7 linked regions of the Homo sapiens genome follow. The protein of the gene in region 6 purifies or fractionates together with the protein of the main gene of each other region. This does not show direct contact. Each region holds a gene or a part of one and is shown on either strand. Other genes may lie near its edges. The genes, in order: PLPBP, NPEPPS, C1QTNF9, ISOC1, CARNMT1, PRCP and FAM81A.

Region 1 (3,500 bases), on a different chromosome or scaffold from region 6:
CACAGTTAAATCTCAGTTCCTCTGAGAAGACAAATGTGACAGTTTTACTAGATACAAATTCAAATGTCAGACCATCCCTGGCTAATCAGCAAAGGTAAATAAGGGAAAAGCTGACATACATGATCAGGCAGCATATACATCCATAAGCTTCAAGAAGCTGGTAACGGACAGATTCCTAGTAAAAGGCTTGATCTATGTCTCAGTTCAAACTGAGAGAAACAGGTCAGGATGACAATGAAGAAAGGATGACCAGTGGAAGCCAAGATGCTTCCCTAGCATATCACCACAATTCTTCAACTTTCTGGGATGAGGGTATTCTTATCCAACAAGGACATCACCATGACCCTAACACTGGCCAGGTGTGGTGGCTCACACGTGTAATACCAGGTGGGTGGATCACCTGAGGTCAGGAGTTTGACACCAGCCTGGCCAACATGGTGAAACCCCATCTCTACTAAAAAACTGCAGCAATCCACAGGACAGATTATCACAGTTTACATAACTATTCCTCGTTAATGGATATTAGATTGTTTCTTATTTTTTATTACAAAAACAAAGCTTGGATATAGAACTTGGTGCTATGTACAAGTATTTCAGATGGGCAGTTTGCAAATATTTTCTCCCATTCTGAGTTGTCTCTTCACTTTGTTGTTTCCTTTGCTCTGCAAGAGCTTGTTTTCTTTTGGAGACAGAGTCTCGCTCTGTCGCCCAGGCTAGAGTGCAGTGGCACAATCTTGGCTCACTGCAACCTCTGCCTCCTGGGTTCAAGCTATTCTTCTGCCTCAGCCTCCCAAGTAGCTGAGATTACAGGCACCCACCACTACACCTCACTAATTTTTGTATTGTTGGTAGAGATGGGGTTTTGCCATGTTGGCCAGGCTGTTCTTGAACTCCTTACCTCGTGATCTGCTGGCCTTGGCCTCCCAAAGTGCTGGGATTACAGGCGTGAGCCACTGTGCCCAGCCTGCAAGAGCTTTTTAACTTGATGTGATCCCATTTGTCCATTTTTGCTTTGGTTGCCTGTGCTTTTGGAGTATTTACTCAAGCAATCTTTGTCAAGGTCAGGTGCAGTGGCTCACACCTGTAATCCCCACACTTTGGGAGGCTGAGGAGGGCAGATCACTTGAGGCCAGGAGTTCAAGACCAGCCTGTCCAACACAGTGAAACCCTGTCTCTACCAAAAAATAAAAAAATTAGCCAGAGATGGCTAGGCATTGTGGCTCACGCCTGTAATCCCAGCACTTGGGGAGGCCGAGGTGGTCGAATCACTTGAGGCCAGGAGTTTGAGATCCATTTGGCCAACATGGTGAAACCCTGTCTCTATTAAAAATACAAAAAAAATTAGCCAGGCCTGGTGGCACATGCCTGTAATCCCAGCTACTCGGGAGGCTGAGGTAGGAGAATTCCTTCAATCTGGGAGGCAGAGGTTGCAGTGAGCCGGGATCACGCCACTGCACTCCAGCCTGGGTGACAGAGCAAGACTAGAAAGACTAAAAAAGAAAGAAATATACATATATGTATTTGGCTTCAAGTGATCCTCCCACCTTGGCCTCCCAAAGTGTTGGGATTACTGGTGTGAGTCACTGCATCTGGCCTCAAGAAGCCTTTATGGAAATGAATTGAGCTGTGAGGTTGAATGAGTATAACGGATCATCCAGAAGGGAAAATGGCACTAAAACAACAGTTCTGTTAGGTTTTCCTGCCCCTTCTATGCCTGCTGGCTCCTTCCCCGCTCCCTCCTCCCATCACCTTTACATATTTCTAACATGGCTAGGTGCAGTGGCTCACACCTGCGATCCCAGCACCTTGGGAGGCTGAGGTGGGCGGATCACCTGAGGTCAGGAATTGGAGACCAGCCTGGCCAACATGGTGAAACCCCGTCTTTACCAAAAATACAAAAATTAGCCAGCATGGTGGGGCGTGCCTGTAATCCCAGCTACTTGGGAGGCTGAGGCAGGAGAATCGCTTGAACCCAGGAGATGGAGGTTGCAGTGAGCCGAGATCATGCCACTGCATTCCAGTCTGGGTGCAGAGTGAGACCCTGTCTCAAAACAAACAAACAAACAAACAAAATTTGTCCAGACTAATGTCTTGGAGAGTTTCCCCAATGTTTTCTTTTAGTAGTTTCAGGTCTTGGATTTAGATTTAAGTCTTTAATCTATTTTGATTTGATTTTTGTACATGGTGAGAGATAGGAGTCTAGTTTTATTCTTCTGCATATGGATATCTAGTTTTCCCAGCAGCACTTATTGAAGAGATTGTCCTTTTCCCAATGTATGTTCTTGGCACCTCTGTTAAAAATAAATTCTCTGTAGATGTACAAATTTATTTCTGAGTTCTCTATTCTGTTCCATTGGTCTATGTGTCTGTTTTTATGCTAGTTTTGGTTACTATAGCTCTACAGTATAATTTGAAGTCAGGTAATGTGATTCCTCCAGCTTTGTTTTTTGCTCAGGATGGCTTTGGCTATTATGGGTCTTTTGTGGTTCCATATAAATTTCAGGACTGTGTTTTTCTATTTCTGTGAAGAATGTCACTAGTATTCTGATAGGGACTGCACTGGATCTGTAGATTGCTTTGGGCAATAAGGACATTTTGACAATACTGATTTTTCCAATTCATGAGCATGGAATATCTTTCCATTTTTTCATGTCCTCTTCAAATTCTTGCATCAGTGTTTTACAGTTTTCATTGCAGAAATCTTTCACTTCTTTGGTGAAGTTTATTCTTAGGTATTTCATTTGTAGCTATTGTAAATGGGATTACTTTCCTGATTTCTTTTCCAGATCATTCACTGTTGGCATATAGAAATGCTACTGATTTTTGTATATTTATTTTGTATCCTGCAATGTTACTGAAGTTGTTTTTCAGTTATAATAGTTTTTTGGTGGAATCTTTATGTTTTTCCAAGACTCTACGGTTTTAGAATCTCCTGGTAAGACGAAGGAGTACTCATTTACTCACTCCCTCAAAACACTGGATCTTAGCAGTCTTTTTGATTTTTTACAAATCTGATTAGTGATTTTGTATTTCTCTGAGGATGAATATTTTTCATTTGATTACTGGCCTTTTGTATTTTTACCCCTTATAAATTGCCCCAGTTTTTGCCTATTTTTTTTCCCTATAAACAAAAAGATTTGTAGCTCTTTATGTATTCTGGATATGAATCTCTTCCCTCTTCAAAAATATTATTTTTCTTCCACTCTGTGCCTCCCTTTTGCTTTGACATGCAGAAAGCTTTAATTTTTGTGTGATCAAATCTGCTAGTTGTTCTTTTAAAATTTATTATTATTAATATTATTATTATTATTAGATAGGGTCTCCTCTGTCATCCAGGCTGGAGTGCAGTGGCACAATCACAGCTCACTGCAGGCTTAACCTTTTGGACTCAGGTGATCGTCCTACCTCAGCCTCCCAGGTAGCTGGGACCACAGACACACACCACTACGCCCAGCTAATTTTTTGTATTTTTAGTGGAGACAGGGTTTTGCCATGTTACC
Region 2 (3,500 bases), on a different chromosome or scaffold from region 6:
TGTTGTTAAGCAACACATGACTGTATTCCCTTTATTTTTTATTTTTTTCAGACAGGATCTTGTTCTGTTGCCCAGGCTGGAGTGCAGTGGTGCCATGATTGCTCACTGTAACCTCAAACTCCTGGGCTCAAGTGACCCTTCCCACTTCAGCCTCCTGAGTAGCTGGGACTACAGGCACATACCACCACACCCGGCTAATATTTTTGTATTTTTTGTAGAGGTGGGGTCTCGCTATGTTGCAAGCTGGTCTTGAACTGGGCTCAATCAGTCCGCACATCCTGGCCTCCCAAAGTGCTAGGATTACAGGCGTGAGCCACCACACCCGGCCCAGACTCTTTAAGTTGGCAAAATACTCAGTTATGGAAAGCAGAATGCTGGAGGATGACCAAAGGGATAACGAGTCCTGATTCATGTTGACCCTATGACTTACTGCAGGTTGAGTATCCCTTATCCAAAATGCTTGGGACCAGAAATGTTTTGAATTTCATATTTCTTTTGGATTTTGGAATATTTGCATTATACTTACTAGCTGAGCATCTATAATTGGAATATCCAAAATCTAAAATGTTCCAATGAGCATTTCCTTTGAGCATCATGTTGGCACTCAAAAAGTTTCAGATTTTGGGTGGGAATTGAACAATGAGAACACTTGAACACAGGGCGGGGAACATCACACACCAGGGCCTGTCATGGGGTAGGGGGCTGGGGGAGGGATAGCATTAGGAGAAATACCTAATGTAAATGACGAGTTAATGGGTGCAGCAAACCAACATGGCCCGCACATGTATACTGACGTAACAAACCTGCACATTGTGCACATGCACCCTAGAACTTTAATTAAAAAAAAGAAAGAAAGGAAAGAAAAAGTTTCAGATTCTGGAGCATTTCAAATTTCAGATTTTGAGATTAGAGATATTCAACCTGAACACAGCTTCAAATAAGGCTAATTTATTTATTACATGGATCCTGACCTTAAGTATTCAGAACAAAAATAAAATGTCCCAGCCTGGATAGAGTGACAATACTTTCTCTCCATTTCTATCTCAAGCTATTAGAGATTACCTGTGGCAGCATTCTTTTGTTGGAACTTGGTTAAATACATGTTCATTCCTTTCTTAAAGTCCTGAGAAAACACAATTTTTAAAATCCAGGGAAGTCAGATCTCAGAATTTATAGTATATTTGTATATCAGTAATCAAAAACAAATTTACTCAAATACTCAAGTATCAGATACACTGAAACACATATATCCTTCTGATGCCTACTGCCTTTTATTTAATAATGCGTACTCTATGCCTTCTATTCTTGCTCTTAAGTTTTGTAACAGCCTCCCATTTCCACTCCCAAACACACCTGCACATCACTCATCTAAGAGACCAGAGTAGTCAACTTCAAATAATTGAATTCTCATTCTTTTTGGTCATTAAAAAAAAATGACAAGCCAGAAACTATTTGGGAACTTAATCCAAATAAAGTGAGACTTTTTTTCATGCAAAACTCTTATGATTTCACCATAAAAGAATGAAATATTTAAAGTTTTTTTTTACCTTATCCCCAATGTAGTCATGCAGCATTCGGATGACAGATGCACCTTTGCTATATGATATAGCATCAAATATCTCATCAACCTCAGATGGATGGCCCACACTGACCTGGCAGACAGTGTGATTCAGGGTTATGACAGGAAGCAGATAGCCTGTAATACTGAATTACATAAAACGCTTTCTAGGAAAACCCTTCTAACTTACATTTTTCTGCCTTTAACTCACTCATAATGTATAACGATGGTCCTCAAAAAAATGTAGTAACTAATAATAATAAAGTTGAATAGAACATGATTCCTGTCATCCCTTAGAGCCTGGGTTCCAGTCCTGGCTTTGTTCTGCTGGGAAAGAAGCCACTATGGTTCTGTTTATTTTTGGGGTAGTTGCAGAGGAGTGATGAGGAAGATATGGAGGTGAAGAACATTAGATTTCTTGCACTAATTGTAATGAATTACAATTATATGGGAGCCTAATTAAATATGTTGAAGTAGCATTATAACTCTAGTTCTTTAGATACAAAATTTATATATATAAACTGAAGTAGGGATAGGCTAAGTCAAGAGAATTAAAGTATTCACAAAACAGACCCTGACAATAAAATATGTCCAGAATTTTCCTTGACATAAACAATGGAACCATAGTGTTACCCAATAGGTATGACTTCTCCCATACTATTCTTTTTCTTTTTTTTTGGCAGAGTTTTTTGCTCTTGTTGCCCAGGCTGGAGTGCAATGGCACGATCTCGGCTCACCGCAACCTCTGCCTCCCAGGTTCAAGTGATTCTCCTGCCTCAGCCTCCCGAGTAGCTGGGATTACAGGCATGCGCCACCGTGCCCAGCTAATTTTGTATTTTTAGTAAAGACGGGGTTTCTCCATATTGGTCAGGCTGGTCTCAAACTCCCGACCTCAGGTGATCCACCTGCCTCAGCCTCCCAAAATGCTAGGATTACAGGCATAAGCCACTGCGCCTGGCCAGACCAATTTTTTTTTACTGCCTACCTTAAAAAGAAATGTTAATTAGAACTTAGACTTACTAGCTTTTCAAGACTAGAAATATGAACCAGTAAAATCACCCATGCTATTTTCTCTTATTTTCAAAGTCCAAAGTATCTATGTAACAAATTACGTATTTCATTGTAAATGAGAGCAGTCATAGGCTAATGGTTAGAAAGTATGGCTCACTTCAATAGGATGGCTGTTATCTAAGGCGTCAAGCTCCTGGGCACGGGTGTAATCAGCAGAAACAAACTGAGTCCAAATATCATACTCTGGGAAGCAGTGGTCTACACACAGATATTCAATCCAGGATGCAAAACCTTCATTTAACCAAAGATGAGTCCACCATTCCTAAAAACAAAAGATGAAAATACTTAAAGAAAATGAAATGATTGTCATTCTACTAATCTAAAACACTCACATGTCCCTTCCACTATATTCCCAAACTCACAATTTAATGACCTAAAATTCAGTTCAAAACATTTGGCAAAGAACTCACATTTCTGAAAAAGAGAGAAGACTAAAAGAGATGTCAAGAAAGGCCAACTGGTGATATGAGAATTATATCTGAGGGTCATTTTCTTTTCCTTTCTTTTCTTTTTTTTTTTTTTGAGACAAAGTCTTGTTTTGTCACCAGGCTGGAGTGTTCACCAGTAGCTGGGATTACAGACATGTATCACTATGCCTGCCTAATTTTTGTATTTTTAGTAGAGAGGGGGTTTTGCCATGTTGGCCAGGCTGGTCTGGAACTTCTGAACTCAAGTGATCCACCTGCCTCGGCCTCCCAAAGTGCTAAGATTACAGGTGTGAGCCACCATGCCTGGGCTAAAGGATATTTTCAAAACATTGTAAATAACTTCTCCCGCAAACCCAGACAGGGTCTCATTCTGTTGCCCAGGCTGGAGTGGCAGGGGCACCATCGTAGCTTACTGCAGCCTTGAACTCCTGGGCTCAAGCAAT
Region 3 (3,500 bases), on a different chromosome or scaffold from region 6:
TTCTGGGTTTTGTTTGTCTGCTTGTTTTTTTGTTGCTTTGAGACAGGGTCACCCACTCTGTTACCCAGGCTGGAGTGCAGTGACGAGATCATGGCTCATGGCAGCCCCAACCTCCCAGGCTCAAGCGATCCTCCCACCTCAGCCTCCTGGGTAGCTGGGACTACAGGCACGTGCCACAATGCCCAGCTAATTTTTTTTTTATTTGTATAGACAAAGTCTTACTATGTTGCCCAGGGTGGTCTGGAACTCCTAGGTTCAAGCGATTCTCTTACCTGGGCCTCCCAAAGTGTTGGGATTACAGGTGTGGGCCATGGTGCTCGGCCATGGTTTGCATGTTTAAATGGTCACAAATAATATTCCACAATACATGGAAACCATGGGAAATTCCCATTTCAGTCTTCACACATATGGTGTCACTGGAACAGAGCCATGCTTATTTATGGAGCATCTACAGCTTCTTTTCACTACAAGGGGAAGTTGAGTAGTGGTGACAGATCTGTATGGCCTGCGGAGTTGAGAATATTTACTACCCAGCCCTCTGCAAAGCCTGCCAATCCCTGCAGAATCCCCCCGTCTGGAGAGTAAGAACTGTGTTGCCTTTATTGTAAGATTATAATCAGCATGGAGGACTTGTCCATGGTAATATTGTTAAATAGTCGACAGCTCAGAATTAGAGCACCATAAATAGGAACTACTAACCTCGTTCTCCCTTCTCTCCACTCGTCCCATCCTTCCCCGGGCTGCCAGGACGTCCTGGTTCTCCTAGGTGGAAAAGCAGAAAACAGGCATGAGTTGAAATTCCATTTCTGATTTTTCTGGCCATTGGTCTCCATCAGCCATGTGTGTTGGAGAGTCTGGGGGTGACCCCCGCCCTGACGGGCACTCTGTCCTCCACACAAGCGCAGGTGGAGAGAGGCAGGCATGAGCGGGCATCTGGGGTGCTGAGCTGCGTGGGATAAGTGACCTAAGAAATGAACTGAGTGACTTCCCAAGCGCCCATCTCTAGGACGTGCCTAGAGCGCACAGCAAGACAGGACGAAGAGGGAGTGTGTGCAATGGGGACTGACTGTCACGATTGTGTTCCTCTCCTGCGACAAGGACTTGGGACGTGGTCTGAATGTTGGAGGTGCCAGGAGGTTTCCTCACTCTGTTTCTCTTCCATTACTCTTGAGGAGAGTGGAACGGAAGATTTACTAGGCTCCTATGAAAACACAGATGACTATGGTTACGTGACACTATCCCAAGATAGAAGAGAGAGTTCTGGAAGGATCCCTCTAGTGCCTTACACTGGGGGAAATGCCACCAATCAAGCTGGCAGAGAACATCAGGTGAGTGGGGCTCTGCTGACTACACTCAAGTCCTTGTGCTCAGAACAGGCCCCCCTGAGCTCCAGGTCGGCGTGCTATCCGTCAGCAGGTTGAAGGTGGCTCTGGCTATGGCAGTAGAGTGCTCATTGGGCCACAGCTCACCCCAGACTCTGGCTTCTCACAAAGCAGCAGAGACTCCCATACTTCAGACCCACTGACGTGGCTGTGGGGCGACAGGGGCAGGCTGGGCCGGCTTGCAGGTCCTGAGACAGGACTGACACAGGCAGACTTATTTCTGTCACGATGTCTGTTCTCCTGGGACACCAGCGCTCCTGAGTGGGGCCTTGGTCAGCGTGGGACCTCTGAATGGAGGGGGCTTATCCCTACATTTGCCCCTCCCTGCGCTCCCCTCCCCTCCCCTCCCCTCCACTGGCTGCTCCCCTGTGTCTTCCTCTCCTTCCCTCTTTTTGTTTCCCTGCTTGGCTCTCGTTTCTCCCATTCTCTAGAGCGGTGGCCTCTGAGCTTTCATGATCACGCAACCACAACTCACAAAGCATGAACACAGACCCCAATCAGTAGATATTTATATGTTTCTACATTATGCACAGGTAGTATATGGAAAATATGTTTGGTATAAAACATATACAAAAATACACTTTAAGATAAGATAAAAATGAAGTAAATTTTTAGTGTGAGCAATGTGAATGAATATCCTTCTAAGAAGTAATATATATTATATATAATACCTATGAACTACGTAGAAAAATAGATACATAATTTGCTTCTAAGAAGTATATAAAACTTGAAAGAATGGACACTGGTGAGAAAAGAGGAGAGAAATTCAACAGGGAAGAGGTAGAGAAATTTGGTATTGAATATAGGAGTGTTTGTCTTTGTCCTCTATTTTTTATCTATCACCTATTTATCTCCTTTTGTGTGTAAAATTTTATAACAAAAAATGAAAATCTTATATATTCAGAAATACAATACACACACACACACACACACACACACACACTACTGTGGTCCCAGTGTGAGGGCAGAAGACCTGATTTCATTAATGGTAAGGTTTTGCTATTCATTTGGACTGGGCTGTTTGCTACCTGGGGACTGGAACAGTGTCAATGAGCTGGAGATGTGAGCCAGGAGAAGACACCTCACAGAGCAGATGTGCAGGATGGTGGTTAGAAAGAATGTTGCTTCCTGGTGACCCTTGGCTTCATCCAGCCCACTCAAAACATCATCAGGCCACCAAATGCCATAAGCTGAGATGTGTTAGAAACACAAACTTATCTTTAAAAAGGTCCATAGAAGTTTTGATATATTTTTTTGTAATGCCACTGAACTGTGCCCTTAACCCAGATGGATCATTCTGCATATGCCTTAGATATGTGACCCTATGGTCAAGACCAGGCCTCAAGAATGGTACCCCATTCGGAAACCAAGTCTATTGGTTGTTGTTATGGAAACCACTCGGACTTCTCAGCTTTGGCAAATCTCCCTCCCAGAGGCTGAATCCTGTCCCCCAGATCCCCAGACCCTGGGACAGGGTCCCAACCTAGGTCATATAGATGCATAAGCAGCAGCTGTATGGTTTCAGATTCTCGTCTCCTTTTGTGTCATCTGTCACTCCGCATCTCCTGCTTCATGGCATGATGCGGTATTAGCTCTCACCTGCACTGCAGCTGGGTGCTTGCTGCCAAATAATTCGTGATCAGATCTCTCTATTAGCCTTTTGTTGCCAAAAATCCATCATACCTGTCACCTGAGATGGGAGGATCCATGACATCGTATACTACTGAAAATGTTCTGCGGTGTCAGAGATGAGAGAACCCAGGAGGGCAGGGGTCATGGCGATCTTGCCCTGTGCTCTCCACCAGCACCTGGCACAGAGTCTGGCATGGAGCAGACCCCGTGAGTGTTGCTGGGCAGATGGGTGGATGGATGAATGGGGTCAGGCTCCAGTGAGTGTTGCTGGGTTGATGTATGTATGGATGGATGGGGTGTGAGTGGGTAGGTGGAAAATCACACAGATGATGAGTGAATGAGATGAAAGGAATGAAGAGAGAAGTTGAAAGGCAGCCGAAGCCGTCAGGTGAGTACCTGCATCGCCTTTGTCACCCTTCGCTCCGTCTCGTCCATCTCTTCCAGGCAGACCATTGTGACCGGGGTTCCCAGGGATTCCAGGGTGCC
Region 4 (3,500 bases), on a different chromosome or scaffold from region 6:
GAAGAGAGCAAAGAACAGAAAGTCGGGGGTAAAGGGTAGAGAGAGGAAAGGAGGAAAATAGAAGAATTCTATAGCACAGATTCATTCTCTGGATTTATGTGTTATCAGAAATCCCAGGGAAAAAAAAGACACAAACTGTTATCACAAAAAGCATATATGTAAAAAGCATGAAAGAGGAAGTGGTTGGAAACAATTCCTAGGTAAGTCAGAGGCAAAAACCCAGGAAGCCCTTGCATAGCCAAAATATCCTTGCAGAGTGTAAGTCAGTCTTCCTTCAATGGCTGTACATCAGCAGACTGAACCTTTCCACTGGCAGACTCTTTATTTTTATCCGTAATGAAGTATAAGGGAGTATAAGCCATAACCTACTTGTCAGAAAGCAAGCTTGGACCTTAATGACCAGTACAGAAAAGGGTGCAGAGCAGCTAACCAGAACTTTGCAGCAATTTTTTAAAAAAAACAAAATAAAACAAAACAAAAACAGCAGCTATTTATGGGGGGGTTGGGGGCCTGGAGTAAGGCCATAAGCTCAGACACACACCAGGGGTGAGTTATCTCTGAGTATTTTTTTAAGACTTCTGGAAGCCCTAATTTCCTCCTCCTTGCTTTATAGTCAGCTGATTAATCATATCAAAACCATTCAAAAATATGAAAAGATCGTGTGCTTGCTTCAGACAGAAAGGCAGATAATAAATATGATAAGCTGCAGTCCAGTTGTGTGAAAACAGCACTGAATGTCAAGTCATTCATGTCCAGCTCTCCCCATCACCAGCTGCCTGCCCTGCTCAGCCCTGCCTTCCTTACTGCTCACTGTTGAATCAATGGACTTGCAATGATTCAGTCTGAATCAAGGACTAAATCACAGGCTTTCAATGTCTGTGAGAGTGCTTTACACTGTATACTCCAATGTGCCAATAAAGGTTAGTTCTCGATAATCTCCCCAGTTCCTTAGTGAGACAGGAAAGATAAATCTGTTCCCAGGTCTAAGGAAGGAATCTGGTGACGCTACAAGAAGCCTGTCTACAATGCCCAGCACTCCCTAGTGCTCTACTGACCTGAGCCTAACAAGCCTCAGTGATGCTGAGACTCAGGTGGCCATAGCAGGGGCAGAGTGGGAAGTGTACATCACAGAAATACATTTTAGGAAAGTGACACCCATACACTATCACTTTGCTTCAAGATTGAAATGTGGCCAACACTGACTGGGTTTTAAAATCATCTAGCCAGGAACCTGTGTTAGGGAAAGGTGTAGCTTAGCAAATGCAATGGTTTTCAATCTGGCTCTTAGCCATTCCCACAATGCCTGCCCTTTCCCAACCAAAGAACGTGCCTGAGCAGAGAAAGAACAGCAGGAGCTTTCCAGACATACCTAGCAAGTCCCTGCCCACCATCCTGACAATGCTGGTCCCAAGTCCACTTTCTCTCCTGGCTTAAAAAGGGGCAGTTAAAACTCCAGCCATTTAATGCACACAGGTACATGTGCATTAGACTTCTGAAGTTCTCCCCTTACACTTGCAAAACTAATCCAACTAGGCCAAAGGAAAAGAAGGATTGCTCTGACCCACAAACCTAAAAAATGCATGTGCACTAAGTCATGAAAGCCTCAGAGAGGGGGGAAAAAGACTAAACCCATTAGATTTCCAAGCAACACTAAAACTCCCCGGAAGTACAAGGACATCAAGGTCAAGAGAGGATTTTATTCTCTTATTCTTCATGCACTCTACAATTGTTAATTGAAAGGAGTAATGTCTTTCAGATGACAAATACCCAGAAAACATTTCTTGAATAAAGCACATGCCACAGACCCTGGTACAGTGAAGTTTCAATAATGCAAACTATGAATCTTAAAATAATCTTAACAGGCAATATAGCTAGTCTTGGGAATTATCTTCAGTAGTTATGTTCTACAGGAATAGAGAGGAAGGGGAGAGGACCACAATGGTATTTTAACTTTCACACTTATGGAAACAAACCAGAACACTTAACATTGCCCCCTTCCTCAAATTTAGGAACAAGGTATATCGCCTCCGTATCAAATCAAGACTAAAAGGAAAAAAATCTGCAATATGGCAGGTGTTCCCTATCAATCACCACCTGACTTATCTATGATCGGTTTTCCCTTTCAACCTCAACACTTTAACCCCAGGCAATGTTGGTGCTCCAGGCCCTTCCAAATCCACCCCAGACAACAGATTCTTTCCCTCCCTTCTCAGAACTTCCAAGAACTAGTCCCTTCTGGGTCTTAGAGGTTATATACTTACACATTTCTGGTGACTAACCACGTGAAGACAACAATCAGTAACAACAAAAAAAGCAGCAGCTAACATCTGAGTATTTACTATGTCATGCACTGTCCTAACTGCTATCAATATATTATCTCATTCCATTCTCACAAAAATCCTATGATCTTGTTGCTATTATCATTTCCATTTCACCAATGAGAAATCTGAGGCATAGAGATTACACAACTTGCTCAAAGTCACAAATTTACAAAACACCAGAACCTGCCTTCAAACCCACATTATCCCCACATTGTGTGGATTCCTAATCCGAGAGATTACAGATTGCCTCTAAAAAGAATGGTTCAGATGGGAATTGTTTTTAATCTTGAGTCTTGTGCAAAGACAGAATTGCCAATCAAAATTTTGTCATTAAGTTGCCATAACAAAGACATATCTAAGAAAATATGAATGTAGGAGAAAAGTCCTTGAAAAAAGTCCTTTTTTACAAGCAAGGAAGTTTGTTTTGTGTTTTTCATTTTTTATTTCCAAAGTTCTGGACCTCAGCATTACAATAAAGGTTTATCCACAGTGGCTGAAAGAGCTGCTGGCTGAGGTGGTGAGGACCTGACAATGAAGTATTTAAACTCAGGTTACCAGGAAAACCTGAAAAGTAGGAATTGATTAACTCATGACTATAAGAATAGATTAAAGGTCTGACCGGGCACAGTGGTTCACACCTGTAATCCCAGCACCTTGGGAGGCCGAGGCAAGTAAATCACCTGAGGTCAGGAGTTCGAGACCAGCCTGGCCAACATGGCAAAACCCCATCTCTACTAAAAATACAAAAATTAGCCGGGTGCAGTGGCAGGCACCTACAATCCCAGCTACTCGGGAGGCTGAGACAGGGAGAACTGCTTGAACCCAGGAAGTGGAGGTTGCAGATGAGCCAAGATTGTGCCACTGCACTTCCAGCCTGGGCGACAAAGCAAGACTCCATCTCTCAAAAAAAAAAAAAAGAAATGGATTAAAGGTCTTTGTTGAGATTGGAAGAAGCAGCAATACTTAGTACCTAACTACCAGATAATCTAATAGCCTAATGGACTTGAAAATAGCTAAACAAAATAAATAATTTCTATTTGTAATCTCAGTATAGGATTCTGCTTCAGCAATAACAGAGAAGGGAGAGCCAATAAGGACCCTAAAACACCTGCTGTGGCCAGCTACCTGCCTGCTTCCCACCACCCTGTGGCCCTGTACTCATCCCTTCTTTCCTCTGAT
Region 5 (3,500 bases), on a different chromosome or scaffold from region 6:
CAGCGCCACTGCACCCCAGCCTGGGCAACAGAGTGAAAAATAAAAATAATAAATAAATAAATAATAATCAATAAAATAAAATGTCCTAACAAAAAATAAAGAGAGAGAAGAGACACATATGTATTGAAATTTCTGAAAGCAAATACTCAAACGTAAAGTTGTCAATCAATACGGAGGCAAAGGAGAGGAGGAAAAGGAGCCTCTCTAAAAGATCTTTAAATAAGACTGAATTCCATCCAATAGCTTTCGTTAAATATATACCCCTAAATCAGGGGTTCCTAACCTGGGACAGAGGTTAGGTGGATTAAATTCTATCCATCAAGAGGTCTGTGGATAGAATTCACTGAGTCTCTGAAGGGAATGGGAAAAAATTACATTTTAATTTCAGAAACTGATTTTTTCCCCTCAATTACGGATGCAGGCAACAAACAATAGTTTTAGCAATACCTATGACTTTATCACGAAGAGAAATCACACATATTTTCACTTCACATTAGCTGAAGTTCTCAAAACAGTGTATATCCCATTCAGCATTTTCATAATACATTTCATAATTATACTTGCAGCTAAATTGTATTTAAAGTGATATATGATTTAAAAAAACATGCATCACAAATTTACTTTTTAAATATTTTGATAACTGTATTTCAAAATCAGTTTTCTTTGTAATCATATGCACTTAAATTTATTCACTTAAAATTGTTATTCTGGGCCAGGTGAGGTAGCTCACACCTGTAATCCCAGCACTTTGGGAGGAAGACACAGGCGGATCACTTGAGGTCAGGAGTTCGAGACCAGCCTGGCCAACATGGTGAGCCCATGTCTCTACCAAAAACACAAAAATTAGCCAGGCGTGGTGGTGTAAGCCTGCAGTCCCAGCTACTTCGGAGTCTGAGGCATGAGAATCACTTGAACCCAGGAGGCAGAGGTCGCAGTGAACCAAGACCACACCACTGCACTCCAGCCTGGTCAAGAGAGTGAGACTGTCTCAAAAAAATAAATAAATAAATAAATAAATAAATAAAATAAAAAAAAAATTATTCTGAAAAGCAGACCATGGGCTTCAGACTGAACAATGGTTCCAAGGCATAAAAAAGTTAAGAATCTCTGCTTGCTCAGAGGTACAGATCCCTCACTTGTTTACAACTATGTCATAATGAGGGGAATTAAAAGTTTAGTTTTTTTGCTTTGCCATAAAGCAAATTATAAAAAGATACACATCATTGATAATTTTCGACCTAACCTTATTATTTAATTTCTAAGTAATTTCCCCTAAGCACCAGCATAAAAATTATTCAAAATAACAACTGTAATCTCACACAGAGCATCCAATAACAAATGTTAACACTTACACATGTAAAACATACAGGCACACAGCAACTATAACAATGAAGCGAGACTGTGAAACATTTTATCAAGAAACTCAAGTGTTCATACACTTTAAAAACTTGGTTAAAAATGAGGTACTATTTACCATCTCTCTTTTGGAAAATTTTTTAAAATTTCTTTAATGATTGGCTGGTAACAGGCATCCCTTTCTGCTTTCCCAGTTTCACTCCAGTCTCTCACAAACTGTTTCAGCGTGGATTTTAACTTATCCATGTCAAATGTAGATGCTGGCATAATCTTTCCATTCCCCTGTTTAAAAAACAGACATCAATTAGCTTCTGAGAGAGTAATCCACTTATATTATGGTTAAATAGACATGCTACTAAGGGGCTATATAGGTGGTTTAGTGGATAAATCACTAGCCTCTCACCTCAACTGGGGTTCAAGTGCAGCTTGAGATCCTAAATGAAAAGAGTTTGGTGGTCTCACTGCTACCCTCAAAAGATTAAGGTCCATTAATCATAAAACCACCATATAATTAAGCAGTCTTTACTCAGGAGAGGACCAAACTGAGCTGCTATGGAGACCGAACATCCTCTCTAAGAGAGGGAAGAAAGTCCCTCCAGGTCATTGATGGGGCAGCATGGAGAGGCTCACACTGGAGTGGCCCAACTGTATCCATCCTGTGGATACAAAAAGAGGACTTCAGTTTCTATGTACTGCCAGTCCCTTGAGATTTATAAGTGAAAACAATTTCTTACAATAAAAGATGAACAGCAATAGATACAAGACACTGAAAAAATATGAGTTAAGCAAGGGAAATTAATTTCTAGCTAGTAAAGTTGCTTTTAAAAATTTAAGTCACTAACCCTGTATTCCAAAACAGAACATTATGTCAAAATGCATCAAAATCTCAACAGTTATATTAGTACTTAAAAAAGGAAAACAAGTGAACAGATCCAGTCTCTGGCTATTAAGCCTAATCAAATGACTGAACATTTAAGTTAAAACTTTCTGAGTAGAGCAAATAGCCTGTGCCAGATTATAAAAATGAAATCCAGAAAATAAAAGACCTCAAAATACAGAGGTTGACCCTAAAATAAACAGAAATAGAACAAACTTTCACATACATCTTCTCCATATTCTTTATTTTCAAACATATGTATGCAATCATTCACAATGGTCAGTAGTATTTCTTGATTATGATCAATGCATTTCCGGATCTTGTCCAAGTGAAGAAGAAACTGAGGAAGTAGTTTCTGTTGGTTAGCTGGAAGTGATCGAAACTGTCTTTCTGTTCGGTTCACCCGCTCATGCATACTGGTGCTAAAACATAAAAGGTGTTTTTTAAATTCACAAAAGAATTCTCACCAGAGGCCAATCTTACTTTAAGGTTGTCTTTCTGTACAATTATTTCCTTATTATGCTGGATACTGTCCTATCATTTACAATCTCTTGGCTTTAAAAAGGCATTAACTTATAAAGTTGTAAATGTTTTTACTTTATTACAAGTCCTTCTCTAAGCAACCAAAATACAAATGGTTTATCACTAGTAAAAGTAAACATATGCACCAATTAGAAGAGGAAAAAGAAGATTAATGTACAATTAATTTATTTTTGTGTTTTAAACTTAAAATTTTCAGCAAAACCAGCTTTAGATTTTTCCATCTTTAAGTAGCAAAATAAATACTGCTATGAAATTATAATACACACAAAATATGTCCTGAAATTAACTAAAAGCTAACCAGGTTGATTTTTTTTAAATATCATAGAAGATCTTATATACTACAAATTACTAAGCAAATAAAAAATTAAAATTCTATAGTGTTTTACTTAACAATACCCACAATTTGCATTCCAAAAACGAACCCAAAGGTCACTTTGGGGACTACTTATTCATAAAACCAGAAAATAGAACATAATTTTTACTTATATTTACTTATTATTATTATTTTTGAGAGGGATTTTCGCTCTTGTCGCCCAGGCTGGAATGCAGTGGCACAGTCTCGGCTCACTGCAACCTCTGTCTCCCAGGTTCAAGCCATCCTCCCACCTCAGCCTCCCAAGTAACTGGGACTACAGTCATGTGCCACCACACTTGGCTAATATTTTTGTATTTTTTTGTAGAGATGGGTTTCATCATGTTGCCCAGGCTGGTCTCAAACTCCGGG
Region 6 (2,498 bases):
CTATGACAGTGCGGGAAAGCAGCACTGAGAAACTTTTGATTGTTTTCAATTTCTTCTTTTATGTTCACACCACCACATTCCCATTCACTTTGATTTTCTACATGTAATTACCTTCTTTTGTTTATCATTAGATTTGATGGGGCCAAAGTTGAGATAGAATAGAGGGTGATGACGGTAAGAGCAAGTGTCCCATGAATGTGATTTCCTGGGTTCTCACTGTCTTTGCACCACGTCTAGGAAGAATCTTCTTGATAGCTCTCCCACACCATCAGTGGCCCTCATAACTGGAGTAGAGTTCCTGGTTGCTTTTCATAAGAGGGAGAGTTACTTTCTTTGTATCTCTGCAAGCAGAGATTTCTCTTTGGTTTTGAGGTTGAAGTGTCTTTGGCCCATTTGTAAGTCCCCATCCCTACCCTACACAAAGTAAAAGCAGAAGATAGATAAAAAATGATGTAATTGCAGCTGGTAGGATGTCTGGTGCCAATCCAGGAAGTGAGAGCCATTTCTTTTGTACCGGATTTAATGACTTTGAACTGTGCTGTAAATAAATAATACAGCTGGACCTTATACCTGTGTGTTGCTTCTGAAGCTCACTTCAACTCCGGCTGATGGAAATGCTGTGTGCACTGGGCTTAGCTGTTTTTGGAAAGTCCTTTAATTTTTTCTCTTCCACTTGGCAGCTTTTCTTAGTTCTGGGATGTTGGCCACTGTGGTACTGCCAGTAAGAAATCTGGCCTTTTTCTGCTCCATTTCTCTTTGTTTCTAAGGTCAGTTTTAATTTGTTTGAATTCTGCCAGTTTAGGAAAATGACTCTGTTTTGTCTTTTTAAATCTGAGCAAGCTTTATGCTGTAGTCACTAATTATATTTCAGTAAGAAGCCTTTAAAAATTGATGAATCAGCTATTCCAAAAGTAGAATATAGTAATATTCAGCTTTTAAATTTTTAAAATTTTATTTTCTGATAGTTGTTACTGCTGTCATTAAAACCAGAAGTGTTAGACACTAACAGGCAGGTGCACAAGAACTTTTCTGTATGACTTCCAAAAGACAAGCTGACTAATTCATGCAGGCAGCATATTTGACATTAATAAATGGCCAAGCCATTCCTATTTCCAAGGGGTTGGCTTCTTTCAAGCAGTTCTTACACTGAGACCTTTCTTCAGAGAGCTTTTCTAGGATAACAAATAGGGTTGGATCAAAACCTTTCAGGGACACAGAGAGACAGAGAGAGAGAGACTAACAGTTTCTACTCTGTTGAAAGATTTCTTCCTCCTTGTTTCTTTTCATTTTCTCTCAATAATTTTTTTTTCTTCACCCTGCCTTGGGAACATTTTCTGCTTTTAAAAAACTGTACCTTGAGCTTGATCATTTTTATGGCATTTTTTTTTTTTAAGGGCATATATAGAGTTCATTCTTGGGATGGAAAGCTGAAATATTTCCTTTACTTTCCCTGGCATCTGGGAGATACAGGAAAATCTTTGTCTTATTTTGGGAGCCTTCAGTTCTCATTGTAATGAGTTGTCTATCAAAGCATTTGGTAACTATTTTGTTTCAGCATCACAGAACAATCGATTTGGGTGGGAATTTAAGGGCCAAAACAATACTAGTTTTTATTCTTTGTCAACTAAGAAATTAAATAATGCAGGGTTTATGGGCTCAATAGAGGATATTCTTACAATTTATTTTACGATTTTAGGGTTTTTCCCTTGTGTAGAATCTTTAAAATACTTTGCCATTTTATTTGATGTTGATTATTTGGATGAGTTACATTATTCTGAAGAAACAAACTGCAAAAAATAGAATTTTTTGGCAAGCATAATTGTATCCTATTACTGTATGCATTTTAGGAATATAGATAGCAGCCTTAATTGAAGTGAGTATAATTATAATATGCTAAGGTTTAATTTTAACATGAAAAAGAATTGGAGTGTCAGATAAGCCTTATTATTTAAAGCATCCCTCTAATAAAACTGCACTTTTTACTGACAGGGAAAGAGAGACATGGAGACTTGAGTGCTTTCTATTTTTATTTTTTTCAGCTCCCAAGAGCTTAGAAAGAATTGGGTGCTTTTTATTTTCTGTTTTTGTTACTTTAACTGCCTGGAGTCAATGGGTAGAACTAAAGTAACTTAGGAGAACCTTCATAAGGAATCTGTAGCGCCAAGAGGTTATCCAGAGGAGCCAGTGTCTAAGCCAGCATAGTAGAGGGTGAAGGCCCCTGAGATATCCAGTTCAACTGCATCATTTTGTAAGGGATAGAATTGTAGCTTAGAGAGAAGGAACTTATCTACGGCCTCACAGCTCCTTTTTGGCAAAACTGGGGCAGAACTGGGGCTCCTTTTTGGCAAATTTTGTTTGCTTCATTTTACTGGTACAGTTTTATTTTTGTTTGGATTCAAGCAACAAAAGCCCACAAAACCAGCTTAAGGAAAAGAAATGTTTTGAAACTGCCAGATCAGCTCCAGGACTTGGGTTACCAGGAATCATGGGGAACTAGA
Region 7 (3,500 bases), on a different chromosome or scaffold from region 6:
TAGCAGCCCCCATGGGATGAGTGGAAAGGAAAAGTATACCTTAGATGCATATTTTCCATATATTATACCTTTCCTTGGTGACACGAGAAGGAAATACAGTGCTCCGTTGGGCCATTTTCTTTTTAATAATTCACATCTGTTGAAAAAATAAGCACTAAATTATTTAACAGTTTATATCTAGAACTTAACCTCAAAAGCTTATTATTAAGTTGCTAAGTGGATCATAAATTATGTTGAAACACTGATAAGTTATATTATTAAATGTTTTGTATCTTATACATGAAATAAACAGCATATGTTTCCAAATAAGAAGAAAAGCAATCAAGCAAAATCAAAGCTCTTCTGAAATTAATATTGCTAAGCCTTGCAAGACAGACCAACAGGGACTGTACAATGGAGTTTCCTGAAGTTTCCTCACTCCAAATCTGCATCTCAAGCTTGAGAAACCACTTTTAACAGAAACTAGAGTGTTTAATAGGCTTATCCAATCTTATACTTCTCTGTAGAATTTTGCAGGAAACTACCTCAGTAAATTTGATCTCAGAAAACTTTTACTACTAATTCCATGGTAAATGAAGAGCACTTATTTCTAAATTAATCTCAAATAAAACAGCACATGATCAATGTGATCTGATTTGTGGGAAGATATCTATCCACCAAGGGAGTGAGAAAGATATTCCTCATTAGAACTTGAAAACTTTATAATAAGATACAATCATTCATATTTCATCTTGCATATAAGGAACATTTGGTCCCCACAACTCATTAGAAATGTGAAAAACACTAGAGGATGTTTAAAATACTTTATTATTTAGGTTCCTCAATACTGCTATCAATTGCCTTAAAATAATGAATGCCTACTAACTATGATCTGATTCCATAATTAATTCTCATTTAGATGCTGGATTCAGAAAGCATTTCTGATTGAAATCACTGTTTTGGCGTCATCTCTCTAGTGTTTTATTTTTGGAGTTTCAAAATGTGCACATTTCATTTTCTTAGACAAAGAACTTTAAACAAATTACATTTAAGGAAAAAAAAGTCATTCATGCCAAACAAGCTATGGTGCCCAAAGAGTTCTTCAGTGTCAAAGAGAAGCATTTCTGCCATATAGACTACAGTAGCCCTCCCTCATCTGTCAGGGGTACATTCCAAGACCCCCAGTGGATGCCTGAAACCGAAGCCTATATATACTATTCTTTTCTACACATACATACTCATGATTAAGTTTAATTCATAAATTAGGCACAGTGCTCTTGCACTTTGGGGCTATTATGAAGTAAAATAAGGGTTACTTGGTCACAAGCACTGCAATACCCCAACAGTCAATCTGATAACAGAGATGGCTATTAAGTGACTCACAGGGCCAGGTATACATGGTGTGGATATGCTGGACAAGAGGATGATTCCCGTTCTGGGCAGGAGGGAGCAGGATCGCACAAGATTTCATCACACTATTTCAGAACAACACACAATTTAAAACTTATGAATTGTTTATTTCTAGAATTTTTTATTTAATATTTTTGACCATGGTTGACCTTGGATAATGTGGAAAGTGAAACCATCGATAAGGGGGGACTACCGTAAATAAAATCAGGCCAGTGTGGGAAATGCTGTTATTTAGAATCATAGAATCTTTACAGTTTTAAAGTTGTAAGACATCTCAGTTGAGATATTAATCTACAGAATAGCCTAACTTAAGAAACATGTATTTGGCATCTATTAGGTAATTAAGTAACCTAACTAGGAAAAACTAAAATCCCTTCCCTCAGCAGAAGTCATCTAAACCAACCAGAAAACAATGGGTTGTGGCTCATGCCTGTAATCCCAGCACTTTGGGAGGCCAAAGTTGGAGGATTGCTTGAGCCCAGGAGTTCAAGCCCAGAATTTCGAGGCCAGCTGGGCAACATGGCGAAATCCCATCTCTACAAAAAATACAAAAATTAGCCAGGCGTATTGATGCACACCTGTAGTCCAAGCTACTCTGGAGGCTACTCAGGAGGATCACCTGAGCCCAGGGAGGCTGAGGCTACAGTGAGCCATGATAGCGCCACTGCACTCCAGCCTGGGCAATAGAGGAGACTCTGTCTCAAATACAAACAAACAAAAACAATGGGTTAAGTGGCTAACCCTGTGAAAAAAAGCACATGGGGAGGGAAAACAGGAGAGGGGTCGATTTTTCCTGGGTAGCAGCTAGGTCAGGAAGAACTGATGAGAATGAGTAGGCTTTCCCAAAATAGGGGATGGAGAGATTGTTCCACAGCTTCTCTTCAACACTCCAACCTCTACTTCCTTTCTTCTGAACATGCTCTGGCCTGCCTAACCTGTTCTTCCGCCCTCATATTTGGCCACTCCCTACCACAATCACCTGCTCCAGTCACCGGGAACCCCCGCCCCCGCCACCCCATCCACCACCGTCCTTGGATATGTCCTGCACACTCCTGCCATCACACCTCTGTGCGTGCGCTCTATGGGAAATGCCCTTCCCACCCCTGCCAGCCTAGAAAATTCATGCACTCTTTAAAGCCCCACTAGCCCCTCCAGTCTATAAAGTGGCTCTCTCTCTTGCATTTCTCCAGCTCTTTATCTGTTTGTATACTATTTATTGTGCTCTATTCTTTTTAGTTGTTTAATAGTCTAGCTCCCCTACTAAATGACACGCTCCTTACAGGCATGTTTCAAATCTTAATAAACACAGGGCTGACCTAGAAGTATCCATATATGTTTGTTAATGAATGAGTGAATGCCCAGCACTTCCAGATCAGAAACTGCAGCAATAAAGATATAAGACAATATACTTTAGTTAAAAAGTATAATTATTTACCAAGACTGAATCCCAAATATTAGACACTCAATAAGTATCTGAAAGAATGGGGACTTTGGCATCCCCTTCTCTGAAGGCCATTTCATCTACCTGAACAGAGCCACAAAAGTCAAGCCACACCACTGATTATCGGAGATGGCTTTTCAGAAGCAAACCCTCCTAAGCGCTATGCAGCTCTATGACAAGAAATTTCATAAGGCATGAGCTCACAAGACACATTATTCAGAATGGGTGCCCTTTATGAATGTGGTGAGGATCTGCATATCTGGCAGGTCGCTTGGTTTGTTAGCATCACGATTCTTTGCCAGAACGTGGAATCTATATTGCAGATGAATAAAGATTGATAATGAATAAGTCACAGGATTAAATAACATCTCAAGCATTGTTTCCAGATCTTCCCGTTGTTAATTCTGGCTTACCTGCCTGAGGTTATCATCTCCTGTACGTTTATAAATCTGATCACTGATACCACAGGTCTGTCTACAACCTTATCACACAGGTCTGGGTTTCATGCTGTTTTGATTGTGCAGTGATTCCACTATATTAAACAATATATTAAACAATCTCCACTTTATAAAGTTTTAAAATTGGGGGAAGTTGGGGGAAGGGACAGGTAGGTAAAGCAAGAAGAAAAGAATGGAAAGAAGTAAGAAAAAATAAACTCTGGGGCCAGGCA

Evidence for each region.
Region 1: the proteins of PRCP (region 6) and PLPBP fractionate together in Homo sapiens (co-fractionation; one large-scale study listed by BioGRID). This does not show direct contact.
Region 2: the proteins of PRCP (region 6) and NPEPPS fractionate together in Homo sapiens (co-fractionation; one large-scale study listed by BioGRID). This does not show direct contact.
Region 3: the proteins of PRCP (region 6) and C1QTNF9 purify together in Homo sapiens (co-immunoprecipitation; one large-scale study listed by IntAct). This does not show direct contact.
Region 4: the proteins of PRCP (region 6) and ISOC1 fractionate together in Homo sapiens (co-fractionation; one large-scale study listed by BioGRID). This does not show direct contact.
Region 5: the proteins of PRCP (region 6) and CARNMT1 purify together in Homo sapiens (co-immunoprecipitation; one large-scale study listed by IntAct). This does not show direct contact.
Region 7: the proteins of PRCP (region 6) and FAM81A purify together in Homo sapiens (co-immunoprecipitation; one large-scale study listed by IntAct). This does not show direct contact.

Annotation. Positions count from the first base shown.
Region 1 is NC_000008.11:37,769,145-37,772,644, reverse strand, and holds part of PLPBP (pyridoxal phosphate homeostasis protein), read right to left. Parts: intron 1-3,500. UniProt on the Homo sapiens protein: Pyridoxal 5'-phosphate (PLP)-binding protein, which may be involved in intracellular homeostatic regulation of pyridoxal 5'-phosphate (PLP), the active form of vitamin B6.
Region 2 is NC_000017.11:47,590,108-47,593,607, reverse strand, and holds part of NPEPPS (puromycin-sensitive aminopeptidase), read right to left. Parts: intron 2,892-3,500; coding exon 2,727-2,891; intron 1,705-2,726; exon of another isoform or gene 1,653-1,704; coding exon 1,548-1,652; intron 1,124-1,547; coding exon 1,063-1,123; intron 1-1,062. UniProt on the Homo sapiens protein: Aminopeptidase with broad substrate specificity for several peptides. Involved in proteolytic events essential for cell growth and viability. May act as regulator of neuropeptide activity.
Region 3 is NC_000013.11:24,316,080-24,319,579, reverse strand, and holds part of C1QTNF9 (complement C1q and tumor necrosis factor-related protein 9A precursor), read right to left. Parts: coding exon 3,411-3,500; intron 763-3,410; coding exon 700-762; intron 1-699. UniProt on the Homo sapiens protein: Probable adipokine. Activates AMPK, AKT, and p44/42 MAPK signaling pathways.
Region 4 is NC_000005.10:129,108,249-129,111,748, reverse strand, and holds part of ISOC1 (isochorismatase domain-containing protein 1), read right to left. Parts: intron 1-3,500.
Region 5 is NC_000009.12:75,014,794-75,018,293, forward strand, and holds part of CARNMT1 (carnosine N-methyltransferase), read right to left. Parts: intron 2,656-3,500; coding exon 2,460-2,655; intron 1,639-2,459; coding exon 1,475-1,638; intron 1-1,474.
Region 6 is NC_000011.10:82,822,436-82,824,933, reverse strand, and holds the end of PRCP (lysosomal Pro-X carboxypeptidase isoform 1 preproprotein), read left to right. Parts: coding exon 1-28; 3' UTR 29-1,998; downstream 1,999-2,498. UniProt on the Homo sapiens protein: Cleaves C-terminal amino acids linked to proline in peptides such as angiotensin II, III and des-Arg9-bradykinin. This cleavage occurs at acidic pH, but enzymatic activity is retained with some substrates at neutral pH.
Region 7 is NC_000015.10:59,455,186-59,458,685, reverse strand, and holds part of FAM81A (protein FAM81A), read right to left. Parts: intron 137-3,500; 5' UTR 116-136; coding exon of another isoform or gene 69-115; 5' UTR 60-68; coding exon 40-59; intron 1-39.